Regions from separate parts of the Homo sapiens genome. Here regions 1, 2, 3 and 5 are each linked to region 4. The links come from fine-mapping of genetic effects on gene expression. A gene starts in region 4. Each other region holds a variant in brackets. All regions are shown on one strand. Distances are between the middles of the regions. Region 1 has its middle 28 kb from the start of FGF6. Region 2 overlaps TIGAR (TP53 induced glycolysis regulatory phosphatase). Region 3 overlaps TIGAR (TP53 induced glycolysis regulatory phosphatase). Region 4 holds the start of TIGAR (TP53 induced glycolysis regulatory phosphatase). Region 5 overlaps FGF23 (fibroblast growth factor 23).

Evidence for each region. PIP is the estimated chance that this variant, and not a neighbour inherited with it, causes the effect. A credible set is the group of variants that fine-mapping cannot tell apart.
Region 1: its variant is the best candidate, but not a certain one, in a credible set for the expression of TIGAR in tibial artery (GTEx, PIP 0.74).
Region 2: its variant is the best candidate, but not a certain one, in a credible set for the expression of TIGAR in whole blood (INTERVAL, PIP 0.73).
Region 3: its variant is the best candidate, but not a certain one, in a credible set for the expression of TIGAR in pancreas (GTEx, PIP 0.55).
Region 5: its variant is the best candidate, but not a certain one, in a credible set for the expression of TIGAR in neural progenitor cells (Aygun 2021, PIP 0.87).

Annotation. Positions count from the first base shown.
Region 1 is chr12:4,415,987-4,420,370 of GRCh38, forward strand. No RefSeq gene overlaps it. Among named protein-coding and RNA genes, the nearest start is that of FGF6, 28 kb to the right of the region's middle. The variant C/T (reference allele first, on the strand shown) is at 2,170.
Region 2 is chr12:4,356,420-4,360,803 of GRCh38, forward strand. TIGAR (TP53 induced glycolysis regulatory phosphatase) reads left to right here. Exons shown (of 6, transcript NM_020375.3): 6 at 1-3,609. Among named protein-coding and RNA genes, the nearest start is that of FGF23, 21 kb to the right of the region's middle. The variant A/G (reference allele first, on the strand shown) is at 1,898.
Region 3 is chr12:4,345,303-4,349,686 of GRCh38, forward strand. The region is part of intron 3 of TIGAR (TP53 induced glycolysis regulatory phosphatase); the gene reads left to right. Among named protein-coding and RNA genes, the nearest start is that of TIGAR, 26 kb to the left of the region's middle. The variant C/T (reference allele first, on the strand shown) is at 2,210.
Region 4 is chr12:4,318,802-4,323,185 of GRCh38, forward strand. It overlaps TIGAR (TP53 induced glycolysis regulatory phosphatase), which reads left to right and starts at 2,412. Exons shown (of 6, transcript NM_020375.3): 1 at 2,412-2,502. The coding sequence starts at 2,471. RefSeq lists an enhancer at 2,004-2,657 and a silencer at 2,123-2,502.
Region 5 is chr12:4,364,905-4,369,288 of GRCh38, forward strand. FGF23 (fibroblast growth factor 23) reads right to left here. Exons shown (of 3, transcript NM_020638.3): 3 at 3,323-4,384. Among named protein-coding and RNA genes, the nearest start is that of FGF23, 13 kb to the right of the region's middle. The variant G/C (reference allele first, on the strand shown) is at 1,863.

The sequences.
Region 1 (4,384 bases), 97 kb after region 4:
GAATTTCAGAAAAAGAATGAATTTTTAAAAATATAAATAAGTACCAAATATTCCATGAAAGCATACTTGTACTAAAACATTTTTCATTGTTTATCTGAAATTCCATAATTCAGGTATTGTGTTTCTATTTGCTAGATCTGCAGCCCTACGCAAGGAGTATGAGAAGATCCACAGTAAAGGATCCTGAGAGCAGACTTCATGGAATTCAAAGTACGCGGCCAAGCTAAGTCCACATTTCTCTCCCCAGTGTGTGTGTGCACGAGAAACCATGGCATGTCTCAGGTCTGGGGTCTGGTTGTGTGTCCCGAGTTGGTTCCTTCTGGTGGGTTCGTGGTCTCGCTGACTTCAAGAATGGAGCCTCGGACCTTTGCGGTGAGTGTTACAGCTCTTAAAAATGGCACAGACCCAAAGAGTGAGCAGCATCAAGATTTATTGTGAAGAGGGAAAGAGCAAAGCTTCCACAGTGTGGAAGGGGAACCTGAGCGGGTTACTGCTGCTGGCTGGGGGTGGCTAGCTTTTATTTCCTTATTTGTCCCTGCCCATGTCCTGCTGATTGGTCCATTTTACAAACCCGTAGCTAGCTACAGAGCGCTGATTGGTGCATTTTTTTTTTTTGTTTGTTTGTTTGTTTTGAGACAGAGTCTTAGTCACTCAGGCTGGAGTGCAGTGGCACAATCTGAGCTCACTGCAACCTCTGCCTTCTGGGTTAAAGTGATTCTACTGCCTCAGCCTCCGGAGTAGCTGGGACCACAGGTGCCTGCCAGCACACCTGGCTACTTTTTTGTATTTTTAGTAGAGACGGGGTTTCACCGTGTTAGCCAGGATGGTCTCGATCTCCTGACCTCGTGATCCGCCTGCCTCAGCCTCCCAAAGTGCTGGGATTACAGGTGTGAGCCACCGTGCCTGGTCTGATTGGTGCGTTTTACAAGCCTCTAGCTAGCTCCAGAAAAGTTCTCCAAGTCCCCACTGGACCCAGGAAGCCCAGCTGGCTTCACCTGTCAGTTGGAGGGAAGGAGAGAGGGACCTAAGAATTCAGTGTGCTGCCACAGCAGGCAACCTTGATGACATGGTGCTAAATGCAATGAGCCAGACACGAAAGGACAGATGTCGCATCATTCCATCCATGTGAAGCACCTGGAATACGCACATTCATAGAGACAGGTAGCGGAATGGTGGTTTTCGGGGGTTGGGGGTGAGGGGCAATGGCGAGTTAGTATTTAATGGGGCAGAATTTCAGTTGGGGAAAATGAAAAAGTTCTGGAGAGGGATGGTGGTGACGGTTACACCACATTGTGAATATAGGCAACACCACGACACCGCAGAGTTAAACAAGATTAAAAGTGCAAATTTTATGCTATGCATATTTCATCACAATTATACACAGAAAGATTTCAGTTCGAGGTCCTGCCCTGTCCTTAAAAGAGCTCTCTAGAGAGCAGCAGCCAGCTCGCCCCCGGGTTGCCCTGGACATGAGAAACACAGAAATACACATGAAGCTCAGGCTTCTCCTGTTGCTCAGCATCCAGGGTGCAGGGGCCAGGCATTCAGCGCCAGCCAGGAGCGGGAGAGGTTTATGTGGCTCGGTGGAGGTCACACTGCAGACAGAGGCTCAGGGAACCCAAGTCTCCCAGCCTCCATGTGGGGCTCATTCCTCTGCCTTAAAGGGAGAGGAACACACAGCCCTCCTGCTGCTCCTCCTCCCGCTCCAACCCGTGTAATGAGCTAATCTCCGAAAAGAGCTTAGAGCTCTTCTCAGAAAGATGCTCTATAAATACAGCATCCTCTTGCTAACCAGGACTCCAGGGGTGAGGAACAGATCACTGGAGGGATCCAGATGGGGGGAAGGGGTCCCTGGGGGACTTAAATTTAACCCCAGAAACTGGGCTCAGGTCACTGGCTGCGACAGCCCTGTGCGCTGTCCCCAGGAGAAACCATCCGGAGAATACTGTTTATTCTTTGTAATTTAGGGGCTTTCCCTGCCCCCAGTCACTGCCTAGGAGGATCATGGATTAATATGGGCTTTTGGATAGAATATGAATTTTTATCAGCAGCTGTTAGGACATCTTCCCTGATCTTTGCTTTAGGGGCCCAGGCTCTGCTAAATTCAGACCAGACAGAGTTAGTTGCTTCTCAGACAGACCTTACAAGGAAGCAGCAAGGCCAGAGAGG[C/T]GTGGGGTAAACAATTTCAATGAGAGTTCTCAATCTGCCGTGGGCACACGTCACCAGGGGCTTCTGAGAGCTTTTGCTCGACCTTCTCCAGTTAAACAAACTACTGCAGTCCTTCTCTCCCCGTCACCCCAAACTGCACTTTTAATAACAAATATTTTATAACACTATCTTTACTATTTAAAGTGAAACTGATGGTCAATATAATAGTACCTACACATATCACTTAAAAAATTAATATAATGCCTTAACTGTAGAGAAAAAAGGGAGCAGGTAACTTAAAAGATTGTATTTCAAGATCTAAATGCTCAGGCACAGCCACATTAAGACAATGGAGGATTCAGATGCTCATAGTTAGTTGTAATGAATACATTTGGATTTAAGAATGGCAAGAAAGTGTTCCACTAAAAATTATGTGCCGTTTTTGACATTTGAGATAGGATTAGGTATGTCTGTGTAAATGCATATAGTGAGAGAATCACTGCGATTGTGAGAGCTACAAATGTACTGATAACTGACGGGTTATCATGCTAGGGTTTTTCAAAGTGGTGCACTGTGCTTGAAAGGTTTCACACAAAATACAGACTTCCCTAGATTTATACCCTCGTTGGGAAACTTTGCGTTTTAAAGCGACAGAGAAAAACATTCTCTGCTTTATGTAAAGCAGTTTGATTCTAGGCTCAGATTTATAAACAGGTGTTCTACCTACATGACATTCTGAAAGCTGAGCAATTGCAGGACAATTCTTCATGATGGAGACTGTCCTCTGTGTTGCAGATGCCTCTCATCTGTGGCTTCTGTTCACTGATGCTAGCAGCATCCCCAGTCACTGTGATAACCAAACACCCTCCCGAACTGCCGAAGTGCTCCATCGAGATCCACCGATGCAACAGGGCTGAAAGTGCCTAGTCCTTACAGAGATGTTCCTTTCATTTCATTTCCTTTCTTTTCCTTTCCTTTCCTTTCCCTTTTCTTCCCTTTTCCTTTTTTCCTTTCATCTTTCCATATGATTCTAAGAAGTGGGATCCAGGAAAGGCAGAAAATAACTCTGTCTTCCTGTGTGGAGTGGCTCAGGAAAAACCAGATGAGTCGACTATGAGGGAACACTAGGGCAAAGGCCCTAAAGATCTTACTAGGAATCCATTTTCTAAAATCATTATATTAAAAAGATAGAGGCACTCATATGTTTATCGTAACAGTATTCACAATAGCACAAAGATATGAAATCAACCTAAATGTACATCAGTGGATGACTGGATAAAGAAAATGTGGTACATGTGCACGATGGAATACTATACAGCCATAAAAAGAATGAAATCATGTCCTTTGCAGCAACATGGATGGAACTAGAGGCCGTTGCTTAAGTGAAACAACTCAGAAAGTCAAATACCACATGTTCTCACTTTTAAGTGAGAGTTAAATAATGTGTACACATGGACATAGAGTGTGGACTGATAGAAATTGGAGACTTGGAAGGGGGACAGTGAGAGGTGGTTGGGCGATGAGAAATTACTTAATGAGTACAATGTACATTATTTGCATTATGGATACATTAAAAGCCCAGACTTTGCTACTAAGCAATATATCCATTTAACAAAATCGTGCTTGTACCCCTTAAATTTAATCTCCTAAGAATCCATGAACAGTAGGGATTCTCATAAGAATCCATTTTCTTTCTTTTTCTTTGAGACAAGGTCTCACTCTGTCACCCAGGCTAGAGTGCAGTGGTGCAATCACAGCTCACTGCAGCCTTGAACTCCCGGGCTCAGCCTCCCAAGTAGCTGGGCTACAGGCATGTGCCGCCACACCCGGCTAATTTTTCCACTTTTTGCAGAGACGAGGGTTCACCACATTGCCCAGCCTGGTCTCGAACTTTCGGGCTCAAGCAATCAGCCTGCCTTAGCCTTCCAAAGTGTTGCGATTACAGGTGTGAGCCATGGCGCCAAGCCAAGAATCCATTTTCATTCAGACTTCTGTAAGTGATTTACACTTCACACAACTCTTTCCAGCGTATCATCTCATTTGAATCTACACACTGATTCTGCTTGGTAGGCAGGGCTGGAATATAAGCTGCACTTAAGAGATGAAGACATAGAGGCAGAACGAGCTTAAGTGATTTATTTATCCAAGGTTATTCTCTATCTCATCCCTGTGTATATTTCCTTGCCAGCCCTCCCATGACATGCAGTAATGCTGTACTGTTGCCTGGGAAACTCAT
Region 2 (4,384 bases), 38 kb after region 4:
TTTTTTAAGAGAAACTTTAATTTCCCAGCAAAAGTGAGAGGAAGGTAGAGAGATTTCCCATCTATCCCCTGCCCCTACACACGCATTGCTTCTCCTACTATCAACATCCCCCACCAGACCAGTGCATCTGTTACCATCGGTGAGCCCACATTACACTGACATATCCACATCACCTGAAACCCATAGTTTACATTAGGGTTCATTCTTGGTGTTGCATGATCTGTGGGTTTGGACAAACGTATGAAGACATGTATTCCACCATTATAGTATCATGCAGAGTATTTTCACTGCCCTAAAAGTCCTCTGTGTTCCCTGTACTCATCTTTCCCACCTTGTCTTGCCTGTTTCTGTTAGGTTTAGTCCGAGGCCTAGCAGAGGGAATGGGCAGAAGTTTCCAGTTCCAGGCTTCACCCCAGGCTCGCAGCTTCAAGCAGAGCCTGTCGCTTAGGCTCCCTTGCACCTGGAGTCGAAACCATGGCTCCCATTCACCTGTCTCTTATTTTCCTGTCCTTCCCACTCCTCACTCACCTACTATTCATTTCCATTTTTGGATGAGGATTCTCCTTTATTGCTTTTTAACTAAAAACCTGTTTTAGTTAGCATCTTTATTCTAATTTCTTTAAATGCTATGTCATACTCAGCAAGGACATGCTCATATTAGGGGAAGCACATAAAGTAAGATATCCCTGAGAGAACAGTGCATCTCACACCCATTCCATGGCTTAGGCTTATGCAGGAAGTGCAATATTTGGCCATATCACTTAAGTACATATGCTTATATTATGTATACTTGCATGCATATTACATTTACAAGTAGATGAATTCGTGTAAGTTAAATGGTTCTATTATATGTCTTCACTATATTAAGGTCAGTCACAATTTAATTGAAATAGATCATCCTAGGTGAATCCACCTGGCATAATTATCAGCCCTGTTAAGCACAGACACAGGAGATGCAAAGGAAAGAAGTATTCAGTAGAGCGGTGGTGCTGGGCTGAGTACCTGCTATCAGACGCAGCACTTACCAGTTTGGAAATTGAATGGGGCTCCTAGAAAACATCCTTGTTTCATGTAAATGTTGCTTTTTACCCCTCTTTCTTTGGGCCCCATCAATTTGGAAGTACAGCTTTCAGATTGAAGTATGTGTCAGTTCCTTTGTGTCCAAACAAGATGGCTAAGTAGGTCGTCATGACAGGTAACTACCAGTGCTTTAAAAACTTTAGGATTTCCCCCCACAGTTCTCAATCACTTGGTTCATTGTTCAGCAATATGGCCTAAGGGGGTGATTTCTTCATTGATAAGTGACAGGGCAGGGACACTGGAAAGATCTATTGTCAGAAGGCCTGGATTCAGGTTCAAGGCCTGGTTCTTAGTAATTTTGTGACCAAGCAATCGCTGAGGTGGCTGGGCGTGGTGGCTCGCACCTGTAATCCCAGCACTTTGGGAGGCCAAGGCGGGCAGATCACGAGGTCAGGAGATAGAGACCATCCTGGCTAACACAGTGAAACCTCGTCTCCACTGAAAAATAGAAAAAATTAGCCAGGCCTGGTGGCCGGCGCCTGTAGTCCCAGCTACTTGGGAGGCTGAGGCAGTAGAATGGCGTGAACCCGGGAGGTGGAGCTTGCAGTGAGCCAAGGTCGCGCCACTGCACTGCAGCCTGGGTGACAGAGCAAGACTGGGTCTCAAAAAAAAAAAAAAAAAATCATTTGATAAATAATGGGCTGTGCATGGTGACTCAGGCCTGTAATCCCAGCACTTTGGGAGGCCAAGGTGGGTGGATTACCTGAGGTCAGGAGTTCAAGACCAGCCTGGCCAACATGGTGAAACCCTGTCTTTACTAAAAATACAAAAATTAGCTGGGCGTCTCCAAAAAAAAAAAAAAAGAAAAAGAAAAATC[A/G]CTGAGCTACTGTATCCTCATAGAGAATAATTACAGTAATGTGTATGTGCGTGTGTTTTGGTAATCTTTTATCTTGGATTTATCAAACCTACAGAAAAGTTGCAAGAACAGTAGAAGGAATGGCTGTATACTCTTCACACTTATTCACCACTTGCTTACCTGTTGTCCCACTTGCTTTGCCATTTTTTCTCTCTCCCTCTGTTTTCCCCTGAAACATTGGAGAGTAACTTTGAGTCCTCATACTCTTCCCCTATAAAATTTCAATGTGTGTTTCCTGAGATCAACAATGTTCTTATATATAACCCAGAATAAATATCTGAGTCAGGAAATTTGACATTGATATTGCCTATTAGCTAATCCTTAGACCAAATTTAAATTCTGTCAATTATTTTGTTGATGTACCTGTGGCTTTTTTTTTTTTTCTGAATCAAGAATCCAATCAATCCAGGACTGTGTGTTGTGTTGCATTTAGTTGTCATGTTTCTTCATGTCCTTCCGTCTACTCCTTTGCCTTCCTTTGCCCTTCTTTTTTTCTCCCACCATCTATCTAACCAGATGAACTTTGTCTTTCTTGATCTTGTTACTTTTTAAAAAATAGGTGAGTTCTTGTGGTTTTTTTTCCTGACATATCCTCATTATTAGATTTGGATTGTATACTTTTGTCAGAAGCAGCCCAGAAAGGATGTGTCCTTGGTCATGTCAGGAGGGACAGGACGTTGTATCAATATGTCTGGTTCCTCATTAAATTTGCAACTACTCTTTTAGCCTTTATTGTTTATTTTCTGACTCTGTTTTTTTTTTCTTTAGCCAACTCACGCCATGACTCTACTTTTGCTTCTATGTTTATTAGTTGGCATTCTGTACTAAGACAGCTTTACCCTTCTTGCCTACTTATTTATGTCAGTATGAGCTCAGAAGTTCTTATTCAGGGGCTTATAATACAGTACTCTTATTATTTTATGGTTACACAGTCCCAACTTTGTCCTGTGGGAACCCTTTCAGGCTGGCTCTTATGTTCTGGTGACATAATCTCATCCTTCTTTAAGTACTTTCTTTCTGGTATTAACAATATGCTCCAGACTCATTCTTCCCGAGCCCCAGCCCCAGAATCAGCTTTTTCTCTAAAGAGCCCTGGTTCTTTGGAAATGAAATGAAAGACGCCTGGTGTGCATGGTATTTAGAAACCAAGATCTCGGTGCCAGGGTGCTCATTGCTAATAGTGCCTTTAAAAAAATTACTGCATTGAATTCCAATGCATAGATACACAACAGTTTGTTTATTCTTCCATTGACGGAACACAAGGACCATTTCTAGTTTGGAGCTATTATGAATAAAGCTGCTATAAATATTTTTACAAGTCTTTTTGCGGACGTATGTTTTCATTTCTCTTGGGTAAATAATCTGGGAGTGGAATTGCTGAGTTATAGGTTATATGTTGGTGTATGTTTAGTTTTATAAGACACTTGCCAGATCTTTTTCCATGGTGGTTGTACCATTTCATGCTTATCAACAATGAGTTCTAGGTGCTTCACATCCTTGCCAACATTTGTTATTATCAGTTTCTAAAATTTTAGCCATTCTGATTGTTGTATGGTAGTATATCCCTGCAATTTTAACTGGTGATATGGAATGCTTTTTAATGTACAATTCTTATTGATCATTCATACAGCTTTCTTTGTGAAATGTGTATTAAAATCTTATCCATTAAAAAATTGTGTCATCTTTTTATTTTTGAGTTGTAGGAGTTCTTTATATGTTTTGGGTATACAAGTTCTTTGTCAGATGTGTGTGTGTGTATGTATGTGTGTATGTGTGTGTGTGTGTGTGTATATATACACATGTATCTACATATATATAATTTTATTCCAGTCTGTATATTTATTATAAAATATGTTATTCTACCATTTATCAATTTTTTTAAGTTGTTGATTTTCATAAGACTGATTTACCATTGTGTTTGTTTTATGATTATTGCTTTTTTTTTGTCAAAGAAATTTTTGTCTATCCCCTGGTCATGGAGACTCTGTTTTCTTCTAGAAGATTTGTGATTTATAAGTTTTATATTTAGGTCTTGATCCATCTGGAATTTTTGTGTGTGGTATGAGGTAGCAGGTTCAGGCTTATGGTTATTTACCTGGATATCAAATTGTTCTAGCAGCATTTGTTGAAAAGACTTTTCTTTTCCCTTGAATTTATTTGGTTCTTTTGTCATAATTCAACTTATTGTGTAAGTGTTGGTGTATTGCTGGGCTCCTTATTTAATTCCATTTATCTTTTTGTCTATCCATATGCAAATATCACACTGTCCTGATTATTCTACATTCATAGCAAGTCTTGAAATCAGTGTATAAGTCACCTATGTACTTGTTCTTTTTCAGGGTGGTGGTTGTTGTTTTGGCTCATTGCAGGTCCTTTGTATTTCCACATAAATTTTTTAAAAATATACTTTTTAGAGCAGTTTTTAGATTTATAGAAAAATTGAGACAA
Region 3 (4,384 bases), 27 kb after region 4:
CAATCCTAAGCCAAAAGAACAAAGCTGGAGGCATCACGCTACCTGACTTCAAACTATGCTACAAGGCTACAGTAACCAAAACAGCATGGTACTGGTACCAAAACAGAGATATAGACCAATGGAACAGAACAGAGCCCTCAGAAATAATACCACACATCTACAACTATCTGAACTTTGACAAACCTGACAAAAACAAGAAATGGGGAAAGGATTCCCTATTCAACAAATGGTGCTGGGAAAACTGGCTAGCCATATGTAGAAAGCTGAAACTGGATCCCTTCCTTACACCTTATACAAAAATTAATTCAAGATGGAGTAAAGACTTACATGTTAGACCTAAAACCATAAAAACCCTAGAAGAAAACCTAGGCAATACCATTCAGGACATAGGCATGGGCAAGGACTTCATGACTAAAACACCAAAAGCAATGGCAACAAAAGCCAAAGTTGACGAATGGGATCTAATTAAACTAAAGAGCTTCTGCACAGCAAAAGAAACTACCATCAGAGTGAACAGGCAACCTACAGAATGGGAGAAAATTTTTCCAATCTACTCATCTGACAAAGGGCTTATATCCAGAATCTACAAAGAACTCAAACAAATTTGCAAGAAAAAAACAACCCCATCAACAAGTGGGCAAAGGATATGAACAGACACTTCTCAAAAGAAGAAGTTTATGTAGCCAACAGACAGATGAAAAAATGCTCATCATCACTGGCCATCAGAGAAATGCAAATCAAAACCACAATGAGATACCGTCTCACACCAGTTAGAATGGCAATCATTAAAAAGTCAGGAAACAACAGGTGCTGGAGAGGATGTGGAGAAATAGGAACACTTTTACACTGTTGGTGGGACTGTAAACAAGTTCAACCATTGTGGAAGACAGTGTGGCAATTCCTCAGGGATCTAGAACTAGAAATACCATTTGACCCAGCCATCCCATTTCTGGGTATATACCCAAAGGATTATAAATCATGTGCTATAAAGACACATACACATGTATGTTTATTGCGGCACTATTCACAATAGCAAAGACTTGGAACCAACCCAAATGTCCAATAATGATAGACTGGATTAAGAAAATGTGGCACATATACACCATGGAATACTATGCAGCCATAAAAAAGGATGAGTTCATGTCCTCTGTAGGGACATAGATGAAGCTGGAAACCATCATTCTCAGCAAACCATGGCAAGGACAAAAAACCAAACACCGCGTTTTCTCACTCGTAGGTGGGAATTGAACAATGAGAACACTTGGACACAGGAAGGGGAACATCACACACCAGGGCCTGTTGTGGGATGGGGGGACGGGGGAGGGATAGCATTAGTAGATATACCTAATGTAAATGGCGAGTTAATGGATGCAGCACACCAACATGGCACATGTATACATATGTAACAAACCTGCACGTCGTGCACATGTACCCTAGAACTTAAAGTATAATAAAAAATATATATTAAAAAAAAATGACAAAGAGACATATGAAAAAGTGCTCAACATCATTGGTAATCAGAGAAATGCATATCCAAACTACAATGAGTATTTTACCCCAGTTAAAATGGCTTTTATCCAAAAGACAGGCAATAACACATGCAGGCAAGGCCATGGAGGAAAGGGAACACTTGTATGCTGTTGGTGGGAATGTGAATTAGTACAACCACTGTGAAGAATTGTTTGGAGGGAGGTTCCTCAAAAAACTAAAAATAGAGCTACCATGTGATCCAGAAGTTCCACTGCTAGGTATGTACCCAAAGAAAGGAAATCAGGATATTGAAGAGATATCTGCACTCCCATATTGCAGCACTTTTTACAGTAGCCAAGATTTGGAAATAATCCAAATGTCCATCAGCAGATGAATGGATAAAGGAAATGTACACACACAAACAATGAAGTACTTTTCAACCACAGAGAAGAATGAGATCCTGTCATTTGCAACAACATGGATGGAACTGGAGGTCATTATGTTAAGTGAAGTAAGCCAGGCACAGAAAGACAAACTTGTCATGTTCTCACTTATTTGTTGGAGCAAAAAATTAAAACAATTGAACTCATGGAGATAGAGAGTAGAAGGATGGTTACCAGAGTCTGGGAAAGGTAGTAGGGGGAGGTGTTGGGGAAGTGGGGATGGTTAATGGGTACAAAAAGAAAGAATGAATAAGACCTAGTATTTGATAGCGCAACAGGGTGGCTATAGTCAATAA[C/T]AATGTAATTGTACATTTGAAAATAACTAAAAGGATATAATTGGATCATTCGTAACAAAAAGGATAAATGCTTATGGGGATGGATACCCTGCTTACCAGGATGTGATTGTCATGCATTGCATGGCTGTATCAAAGTGTCTCATGTGCCCCATAAATATATACATTTACTGTATACCCACAAAAATTAAAAATTAAAATACAAACAGAAAAAAGCCAAAAAATGAAAACCTCAGTGGAAGTACTGAAGTATAGATCACACACGGCTGAAGTGATCATTATAGATAAATATATGATAATAACCTAAATGTAGCACGGCATGATAGATTTAAAATATGAGAGTTTAGCTGGGCACAGTGGCTGATGCCTGAAATTGCAGCACTTTGGGAGGCCGAAGCGGGAAGATCACTTGAGCTCAGGAGTTTGAGACCAGCCTGGGCAACATAGGGAGACCTTGTCTCTACAGAAAATAAAAAAGTTAGCTGAGTGTGGTGGCACTTGCCTGTAGTCCCAGCTACTTGGGAGGCTGGGGTGGGAGGATCACTTGAGCTCAGGTAGTTGAGGCTGCAGTGAATCGTGATTGTGTCACTTCACTCCAGCCTGGGTGACAGAGCGAGACCCTGTCTCAAAAAAAAAAGTCCCTTTAAAAAATAAATAAAATAGGAGACATTAGAAGACATGAAGAGCATGATGAGAAGTTCTAATGTCTTTCAGAAAGAGATAGCAGAGAGAATGGGAGGAAGAGGTGATATTCAGAGGTTACAGAATATTGACAATTTTACAGAATTTACAGAATTGTTGAAAGATCCAAGAAGTGTACCAAATCCCAACCAGGATAAGTAAAGAAACCCATATCTACATTCATTATAGCAAAATTGCAAGACTCCAAAGAATGAGGAAAAAACCATCCTTTATTAAAGACCATTAGTTAGGCTGTCAGCAAATTTGTTCATATTGATGATTTCTTTATTGTGCTGAGAAATAACAAGGATTAACCTAGAGTTTTATACCCAGCAAGATTTTTTTCTGCTGTGTAGGTGAAATGACATTTCAGACAAAGAGATTCTGAAGTAACTTTGAAAGGAAAAATGAAAAAGAAGGAAAATAATTGCAGAAGGGAGATCTGAGTTTCAGAAAAGAATAGTGAGCAAAGAAGTTGGTAAAGGTTTAGGAAAATACAAGGAAATATTGACAGTACATATAAAACAGTATGATGATGATGTCTAATTTGTTGGGAAATGTGTTTTTAAAAAAGGCAGATCATGGACCTAAATTATTTCTATGTGACAGGGTCGCTTGTCAATCAAAAATTGCTAGACTTACAATGAGAGAAGGAAATGTGAATAAAAATGAGCTAAAGACAACAGAAACAGCCACATGACTTACCCGATGGAGTTACCAGACATGAGCTTTAAAATAACTATATTTTTGTATAGGTGAAAGATGTAGAATTTCAGTACAGAACTGTAATAAACTGTAAAAAAGAGCCAAATGCAAATTCTAGAACTAAAAATACAATTGGAATTAAGGCTCAATGGATGGGTTTAACAACAATTTAGACACATTTGAATGGCGAATTAAGGAATTAGAATGGGGATTAGTAAACATTTTCTGTAAAGAGCCAGATAGTAATTTTTTTTTAGGGTTTATAGTCTATACAGTCTCTGTTAACACCTGTTCAAGTCTGCGGTAATAGCAAGAAAGCAGCCATCAACTGTGCATGAATGAATGCTGTGGCTGTGTCCCAGTAAAATACTTTATTTGCAAAAGCAGATGATGGTCTGGATTGTGCTGACTTCTGAACTAAAAGATAGGTTAGAAGAGAATATCAAAATCAGGAATGAAGAGACACAGATGTGTACACAGATGTACACAGAGAGGCAACTTTTGCAAAGGAAAATCATTTCTAGTTTTGTTTTTTTTTTTTGAGATGGAGTCTCATTCTGTCACCCAGGCTGGAGTGCAGTGGCGCAATCTCAGCTCACTGCAACCTCCGCCTCCCAGGTTCAAGCAATTCTTCTGCCTCAGCCTCCCGAGTAGCTGGAACTACAGGTGCGTGCCACCACATCCGGCTAATTTTTTGTATTTTTAGTAGAGATAGGGTTTCACCATGTTGGCCAGGATGGTCTCGATCTCCTGACCTCATGATCCACCCGCCTCAGCCTCCCAAAGTGCTGG
Region 4 (4,384 bases):
TGTGTCACCGCTGACCAGTTGTGTGAGCCTAGACAAATCGCTGTCTCTCTCTCGGCCATATTTCTTTTTTTTTTTTTTTGAGATGGGGTCTTGCTCTGTCACCCAGGCTGGAGTGCAGTGTTGGAATCTCGGCTCACTGCAACCTCTGCCTCCCGGGTTCAAACGATTCTCCTGCCTCAGCCTCCCTAGTAGCTGCGACTACAGGCACGTGCCACCATGCCCGGCTAATTTTTTGTATTTTTAGTAGAGATGGGGTTTCACCGTGTTAGCCAAAATGGTCTCTATCTCCTGACCTGCAGATTCTCCTGACCTGCCTTGGCCTCCCAAAGTGCTGGGATTACAGGCGTGAGCCACCATGCCCGGCCATATTTCTCATCTCTAAAGTGAAGATAATGTAGCCTATCCTGTCTACCTTAGAATTGTTCAGAAGGCCAAATGTGATATTACATGTAAGACTGTTTTGAAATGTGTGCCTATGAATCTAAGTATCTCATTCATCTCTTCTCTAAACACATCTTTTCATATATAAGTGGGGATTCAAGGAAATAAATGCATTATGAAATACAAGAATTTAGGTAACAGTGCATGGAAGACAATGTCACCTAGCTAACATTATTGTTACTTGTGTCACATTGCTAGGTACTGCTATCCCAGTTTACCTGTCACAAAACCCAGGGTTAGAGAAGCTCATGTTATAAATAAACTTTCAGTGCCACAAAAGAAATAGCACTCGAATATAAAATTTTCTTTTTAATTCTCAGCAAGGCAAGGTACTTCTATAGAAGGGTGCGTCCTTACAGATGGAGCAATGGTGAGCGCACACTTGGACAAGGGAGGGGAAGGGGTTCTTATCCCTGACGCACGTGGCCCCTGCTGCTGTGTAGTGCCCCACCGCACAGGCTAAACTAATTCCGATTGGCTAATCTAAAGAGAGTGATGGGGGTGAGTGGTTTGGCGGGAAAAACAGTTATGACAGAGCAGGTAATCTGAGTCAGGGTGGCGTAGGTAATGGGAAGGAGTCAGGGTGGAGTAGGTAATGGGAAGGAGTCAGGGTGGAGTAGGTAATGGGAAGGAGTCAGAGTGCAGCAGGTAATCGAAAAAGGTTGTGGCCGGGCGCGGTGGCTCACGCCTGTAATCCCACCACTTTGGGAGGTCGAGGCGGGCGGATCACGAGGTCAGGAGATCGAGACCATCCTGGCTAACACGGTGAAACCCTGTCTCTACTAAAAATACAAAAAATTAGCCGGGCGTGGTGGCAGGCGCCTGTAGTCCCAGCTACTCGGGAGGCTGAGCCAGAATGGCGTGAACCCGGGAGGCGGAGCTTGCAGTGAGCCGAGATCACACCACTGCACTCCAGCCTGGGTGACAGAGCCAGACTCCATCTCAAAAAAATAAATAAATAAATAAAAAAGAGAAGGTTGCTTTAGGAGGAAGTTAAGTTTAAAAGTAAAAAGCAAAGAATTGAACATACTGACATATTGATTCTTTGAAAAGAAATTTAGAACTCATATCTAACATGAAGCAACTCCCTCAACGTTCTGAAGGCTATTAAAGAGAAATTATTCATCTGAGGCTTGTTAAAAACGGCAAGACTTTACTCAAGACTACTGCAATAGGTGAGAGAGACTGAATTCGACTCTAGAATACAACCGGGACCAGTGGAGATTTATAGCCAGGGGGCGGGATGGAAGGGATGAAAGAGAAGATGGGAAATTACCAGAACGTGGTAAGCTATCTGGGGGAGGGGGAGGAGGAACTTTACTAGATATCAAGGGCCTTAGAAGAGAGCATCAACAGTGAGGTCTCTCTTGATAAACAGGCTTAGCAGGATTCTTTGGTAAAACCAGGCTCAGCAGGCCGAGGATGCCGTCTAGTATAGAAAAGGCCTCAAAGGAGCCCGACTAAAGTTTGGTCACGGAGGGCGTCTGTCCCGGCGGAGTTGGGGTGGGTGGGTCTAAGTCTACAGACCTGGCCGACGCTACGTCCCTAAGGTTAGGGACTAACAGACCTCATAGAACACAGTCTGTTGGTCGCTGTACACCCGTGAGGGGTTCATCACAGTGGCCAGCTATAAGACGAACGGTTGCATTCCAGCCTCAATCGCAACAACCACAAATCAGTGCGCCGGCTTCCTTATCTGCCCCGAACGCAGGCTGCCGGCTATCGAGGGAAGGAATCCTACCGCGGACTCCGCGGGCGGGGCCTCCCGCACCTGCCGCGCGCCAATCACAGGCCGGCGCGCAGGGGCGCAAGCGCCGCAGCCCTGGGCGGGGCCCCCGTGGCTCCCTCGTCTCCCCCGCCCCGTCGGCCTCGCCCGGCCCTGAGTGGCCTTCGGGGATGACGTGCGAGGCCGCCTCGGCCTATGGCGGCGGAGCCGGCCGGCTGCTTGGCGGAAGTGGTGTGGGGGAGGTAGCCCGCAGTGCAGGGGCAGCGCGGCGCGGGGCCACCGACGGGACGCGGCTCCGGGAACATGGCTCGCTTCGCTCTGACTGTTGTCCGGCAGTGAGTATGGCTGTGGCAGGATGTCTTTCTCTCTCTCTTCCTTGAGTGTGTTGGAGCGGGTGAAGGGAAAACGGGTCCACCACCCTCTCCCCTCCCTGCTCGCTCCAGCCCGGGAGGGCTGGCTTGGAAGCGCTTTTTCCGGGGCGCTTGCCCTGGGGCCGTCCCGTGTCGCCCCTCCTCTCACCCCAGCAGCCCCGAGGGACGACGGCAGGTCTTAGATAGCTTCGTTCCGTGTTTCAGATAAAGTGAGGCCCGGAGGAGCAAGGGATCGGGGTTCGTAGGCACTTGGTGGCTGCACCAAAAACGGTGCCAGACATGTCCACAGACTTGTCTGGGTACCGATTTTGCTCCCCAGCAGATTGCAAAGAGTTTGCAGAATTGCTCGTCCATGGCTGATGTTTTTGATGCCGGCTGCCTTCCGCTATCCTCTCAGTTTCTGAGGTTCCCCCTCGTTTCCCCAGGCAGTCAGCCCCCCAGGCACATATATGAGACTTCTTTCTTTTCCCCAGAGGTTACAGTTCTGGGAGAGAAAAGAGGATCACAGCTCTGATCTCAGCAGACCGTATCATCCCAAATAAATGTTTTTATTATCATAACGTTACACGGAGCTGCATGCTGATAGGTCTTTATGTATTTGCCAAGTGTTAACGGGAGGTGAAAATCAGGGTAGTTAAGAGCACAGATTTTTATTTTTATTTTTTTTTTTTTGTGAGATGGAGCCTCGCTCTGTCACCCAGGCTGGAGTGCAGTGGCGCTATCTCTGCTCACTGCAACCTCCCGCCTCCGGGGTTCAAGCGATTCTCCTGCTTCAGCCTCCCGAGTAGCTGGGATTACAGGCATGCGCCACCACGCCCGGCTAATTTTTGTATTTTTAGTAGAGACAGGGTTTCGCCATGTTGGTCAGGCAGGTCTGGAACTCCTGACCTTAAGTGATCCGACTACCTCGGCCTCGCAAAGTGTTGGGATTACAGGCATGAGCCACCGCGCCCTGCTAAGAGCACAGATTTTTCAGGCAAGGTAGACCTCGGTTGGAGTCTGTTCTCCAGCTAAGAGCCAGGTAGCCTGGACTTAAGTTTCCTGATATGCAAATGATAGTGCGTATCTCACTACTTTAATGCGAGAATTAAATGGGGGACAGGTAAAGTGTATGATGCAACAGGGAAAGAAATATATCTGAGAAATAACTTCTATAAAGAAAGCTCCAATAAAAGTGCAGTTGATTCCCAAATACGAACGTATAGTTCAGCACACCAGCATTTTGAGTAGGTAATGTGTGCCAGTAGACTGGATCATACAGATAAATAACATACCATTTCTGCATTCATGGAGCTCACAAAGGACATTAATATGATTTAACTTTGTCAATTGACTTTAACAGCTATCTTTTCTGGCCTGTCCTTCCTTTATAAGAAAGATAATCTTAAGAATCCTCTAAAATTGTCTGTTTAGGATTAGCAGGATTTTAATGGCTACCTTAGAAATCTAGTTCCTCACTATCTCTTCTCCCACCCCTCTCGGTTGTATAGAATGCCTTGGGAGAATTCTTAACTTACTAAAGGTCACACAGCTAATCGGTAGCAGAACAGGAACTAGAGGCCTGATCACCCTTTCTTCCAATGTTAGTGCACTTTCTAGACGCCTGACCCAGCCAGCCCAGTGTCATATTTATAATTGAAACTCAGACCATCAAGGTGGTTCACCCCTGTAATCCTAGCACGTTGGGGGGCGGAAGTGGGTGGATCCCTTGAGCACAGGAGTTCAAGACCAGCCTGGGCAACATGGTGAAACCTCCTCTCTACAAAAAAAAAAAAAAAAAGCTGGCTGTGGTGGTGCATGCCTGTGAACCTAGCTAATAGGGAGGCTGAGGCAGGAAGATCACTTG
Region 5 (4,384 bases), 46 kb after region 4:
GGTATTTTGTATTTTCTCTTTTCCTTAATATTCTTGGCAAATAACTTTTCAGTTCTATTAATTTTTTCTTGAAACCAACATTTCTGTTTTTTGTCTCTTTTCTAATTCATTGATTTCTGTTCTTATATCTTCTGTCTACTTATTTTGGACCTAATTTGTTTTTTATGTCCTCCTAGAGTCTTAATGAATAATCTTAGGTTGATTTTAACCTTCTCTCTTTTTATATATAAGCTTTTAAAATATAGAGCTTTTCTAAGTGCTGCTTTAGCTGTGTATCATAAATTTTGGTATGTTGTATTTTTATTGTCATTTAGTTAGATGTACTTTCTATTTTTGATTTGCTCTTTGATTCATGTATTATTTATAAATGTGCTATTTGATTCAAAATATTTGAGGATTTTTTTCAAATAGCTTGGTGATTTCCAATTAAATGGTAGGAGAGAATATTCTGTAAGATTTTGAAATTTTTAGTTAATTGAGACTTCTCAGCCAAGCATATGATCTGTTTTGATGGATGTTTAATTTGTACTCAGAAAGAGAATGTATTCTGTAGTTGCTGGATTTAGTGGTCTACACATGTCAACTAAATGAAGTTAGTTAATGATGTCCAGATATCTGTATCCTTACTAATTTTTTGTGTATTTGTTTAATCAGTTACTGAGAGAGGGGTGTTCCCATTTCTAACTAAGATTTGAACTTGTCTATTTTTTCAGTTTTGTCAGTTTTCTTCATGTATTTTATTGCTTTGTTTTTAGGGACATGAGCCATTAGGATTTTTACGTCTTCCTGATGAATTAGCCCTTTTATTATTATGAATTGTTCCTCTATTTATGCGGTATTCCTTCACTTGAAGCCTATTCTCTATGATATTAATATAGTAAGTTCATATTTTTTATATTGAATGTCTTCACTGTGTATCTTTCCATTCTTTTCTTTAAGTATGTGTTTTGTACAAAACAAATAGTTGGGTGTTTTTTAAATCCAATTTGACCACTCCTGTCTTTAGTTATAGTGTTTGGCCCATTTATATTTAATGTAATTATTAATATAATTTGGTTTAGTCTATCATTTTTCTGTTTGTCCCATTTGATTTTTATTCTCCTGCTCCTCCTTTCTTCCCTTCCTTGGAATAACTGAATTTTTTTAGTATCCTATGTTAATATCTCTATTGGCTTTTTACCTACACCTCTTTGAATTATTATTATTTTTAAATGTTTTGTTTTTAGAGACAGGGTCTGACTCTGTCACCAAGTTGAAGTGCAGTGGCACGATCATAGCTCACTGCAACCTCCGCTTCCCAGGCTCAAGTGATTCTCCAGCCTCAGCCTCCTGAGTAGCTATGACTACAGGTGCATATCACCACTCCTGACTTCTTATTGTGAGTATTTTAGTGGTCACTTTGGGGATTACAATATGCATCCTTAATTTATCACAGTCTAGAGTTAATATTGTAAGATTTTTACATACAGTGTTATCATCTTGTAACCATATTGTTTCATTTATCCCTCCCATCCTATGTGGGAGTTTTGCCTTATATATTACATCTATATATGTTACAAAACCTGCATACAGTGTTATAATTTTTGCCTTAAGCAGCCTGTTAGTGAAATCAGGGAAGAAGGTATACAATATATATAGTTTAAATGTATTCACACATTTAATGATGGTTTTCTTTCTGTAATTCTAAATGTCCATCTGGTGTTACTCCTTTTCAGCATGGCAATAATTTCTCTCCATTTTTATTCCATCTTAATTTTGAAGGACATTTTTGCTGTATGTGTAATTCTGGGTAGGTAGCTTTTTATTTTCTTTCAACCTTTTCAATACATCATTCCATTGTCTTCTAGTTTCCATGGTTATGA[G/C]AAGAAATCCACTACTATTATAGCTGTTCCTCTATATATAAAGTGTCATTTGTCTACAGTAGCTTTCAGATTTTCTGTTGATTTTTGATTTTTAACAGTTTGACTGCAATATACATAACTGTGATCTTTGCATTTGTCTTGCTTGGAGTTTTCTGAGCTTCTTGTATTAGTACACTTATTTTTAACCAATAATTGGGAAATTTTCAGCCACCATATCTTCAAATATTTTTTACTCCCCAGTTCTTTGTGCTCCTTTCCTTCTGGGACTCAACTTACTCATATGTTGGACAGCTTAATAAGGTCTCACAGATCATTGAGGTTCTACTCATTTTCAAAAAACTTATTTCTTCTCTGTTACTCAGATAAGATAATTTATATTAGCTCTATCTTTAGATCACCTTACTAGTTTCTAGTGACTGCATTTTCTCTTGATTGTGCACATGTTTTTTTCCTATTTCTTCTCATGTCCAGTTATTTTACTATTACTGATTGTGTAGGATACCATGTATTAAGTCTGAATCATGTCCTCTTCCTTTAAAAGGTGTTAAGTTCTCTTCTGGCGGTCAGTTACATTATTGGTAGATCCTTGTAGTTTGCCAGGATTGGTATAATTCTCACTTAGAGCAAGTCTGTTTCAGTTTTGAATTTAGTTTTAGGATATACCCCCTGCCTCTGGGGCTTAGTCTTATAAGAACAGCCTTTTGAGTTCTGAGGCACTCAGTAAGGTCTCTTCACCCAGGTGTGGTTGAATTTCTAACGTGTTTCAACATTGCATAGCATCTGGTATCACTCACTATCTATCTCCTGCTGCTGTAGCAGGTGACCTTTGTAGGACTCACCGTATCTTACCTCGTGCATGTGCTACCCAGTCTTTGGCGAAGGACCTGTAGTGAATGCTCATGCCCATATGTAAAGTCTCTCCTTTTCATAGTTCCTTCTGAAAGAAGGAACTCTGGGAACACCAGTCTCAGAATGTAGATTCATTATCTTGGTGTCCTGCTATCAAATCTCACGGGACGGTAACACTGTGTATGTGTTTAGTGCATAGCATTTGGTTTACTGAGATACTGACGTGGTTGTGATGGTGTGTATTTTCCAAATAAAAATTCCCTCTTTAAAGAAAACACGGCTGGGTGCGGTGGCTCATGCCTGTAATCCCAGCACTTTGGGAGTCTGAGGTGGGTGGATCACGAGGTCAGGAGTTCGAGACCAGCCTGGCCAAGATGGTGAAACCCTGTCTCTACTAAAATTACAAAAATTAGCCAGGCGCAGTGGCAGGTGCCTGTAATCCCAGCTACTTGGAAGGCTGAGGCAGGAGAATCGCTTGAACCTGGGAGGCAGAGGTTGCAGTGAGCCGAGATCGCGCCACTGCACTCCAGCCTGGGTGACAGAGCAAGACTCCATCTTAAAAAAAAAAAAAAGAAAGAAAGAAAGAAAGAAAACACTTTAGGGTTAGAATGACCAGAAATCCAATATTGATAAAACTTAAATAATTCTGTCTAGATCAATTAAAATCATTGAGTCTCCTTATGAATGGAAGAAATCTTTGAAAATTTTAAAATTCTAAAATCTTTTTTTCAATTTTGCCTTCTCTGGATTTCCCTAATGTTCCCCTCCCATAATCCTTTTTATTCTTATATTCCGACATGCTTTTAAGTAGTACTACAAAGAGGATAAGCTAACAGAAGCTGAGATAAATTTTATTTTTATTTTAAACAGAAGAAAGGAAAAAGGGGTTACATTTTTATAAATATCTATAAATATAGAAGGATAGGCAAACTTCCAAATAAATAAATAAATACTGCCACATGACGAGGGATATAAGAAATTGTAGGAGCTATTTTGGCTTTGCCATAAAGAAAACCCCTGATGGTAGTGTTGAGTTTGTGAGATTACAACTAGTTTTCCACCAAAATCCTTTTGGGATCTTTCACTGAGGAGCCTCCAATAGCTATTATGCAGGATAATATTTCCAACAGGAAATGAAAACAGAAATATTAAAATATTTGCCATGCATGGCTATATACTATTATACATAGTTTTACTGTTTCAGAATAGGAACCAGTCCTTCAAGTTCAGCTTAAAACCATCAGGTAAAAACAGTTGCCCAACATTTCTCTCATAACCAAAAAGAATAGATCAAAGTATAAGGTTAGTATGTGATGGCAGTGAGAAAAAAAAAAGTGACTGGGAAGAAGCTGTTGTTGAATCGACTTTGCTTGTTAATATACTGTCCTTTAGGTGGTCATTTAAAGAGAGGGAGGAAAATGGAGCCCCCTTACAGGAAGAACCGCAGTAATGGGGTAAGGCTTCATTTAATGCACCAAGAATTTCCAAGGGGATTGAGACCCAGATGTGTCAGCCTAGGAGAGTTTTAACTAATCGAAGAGCCACTGCTGCTGCAGAGCCCTAGAGACCACAGACAAGAGCCTGACCATGTGGTTGTCTTTTCATAACTTCTATAACATGTCCCCTGATTTCTTTCCCCCTGAGTCCTTGATGCCACTTCATTTAGAGAAAAG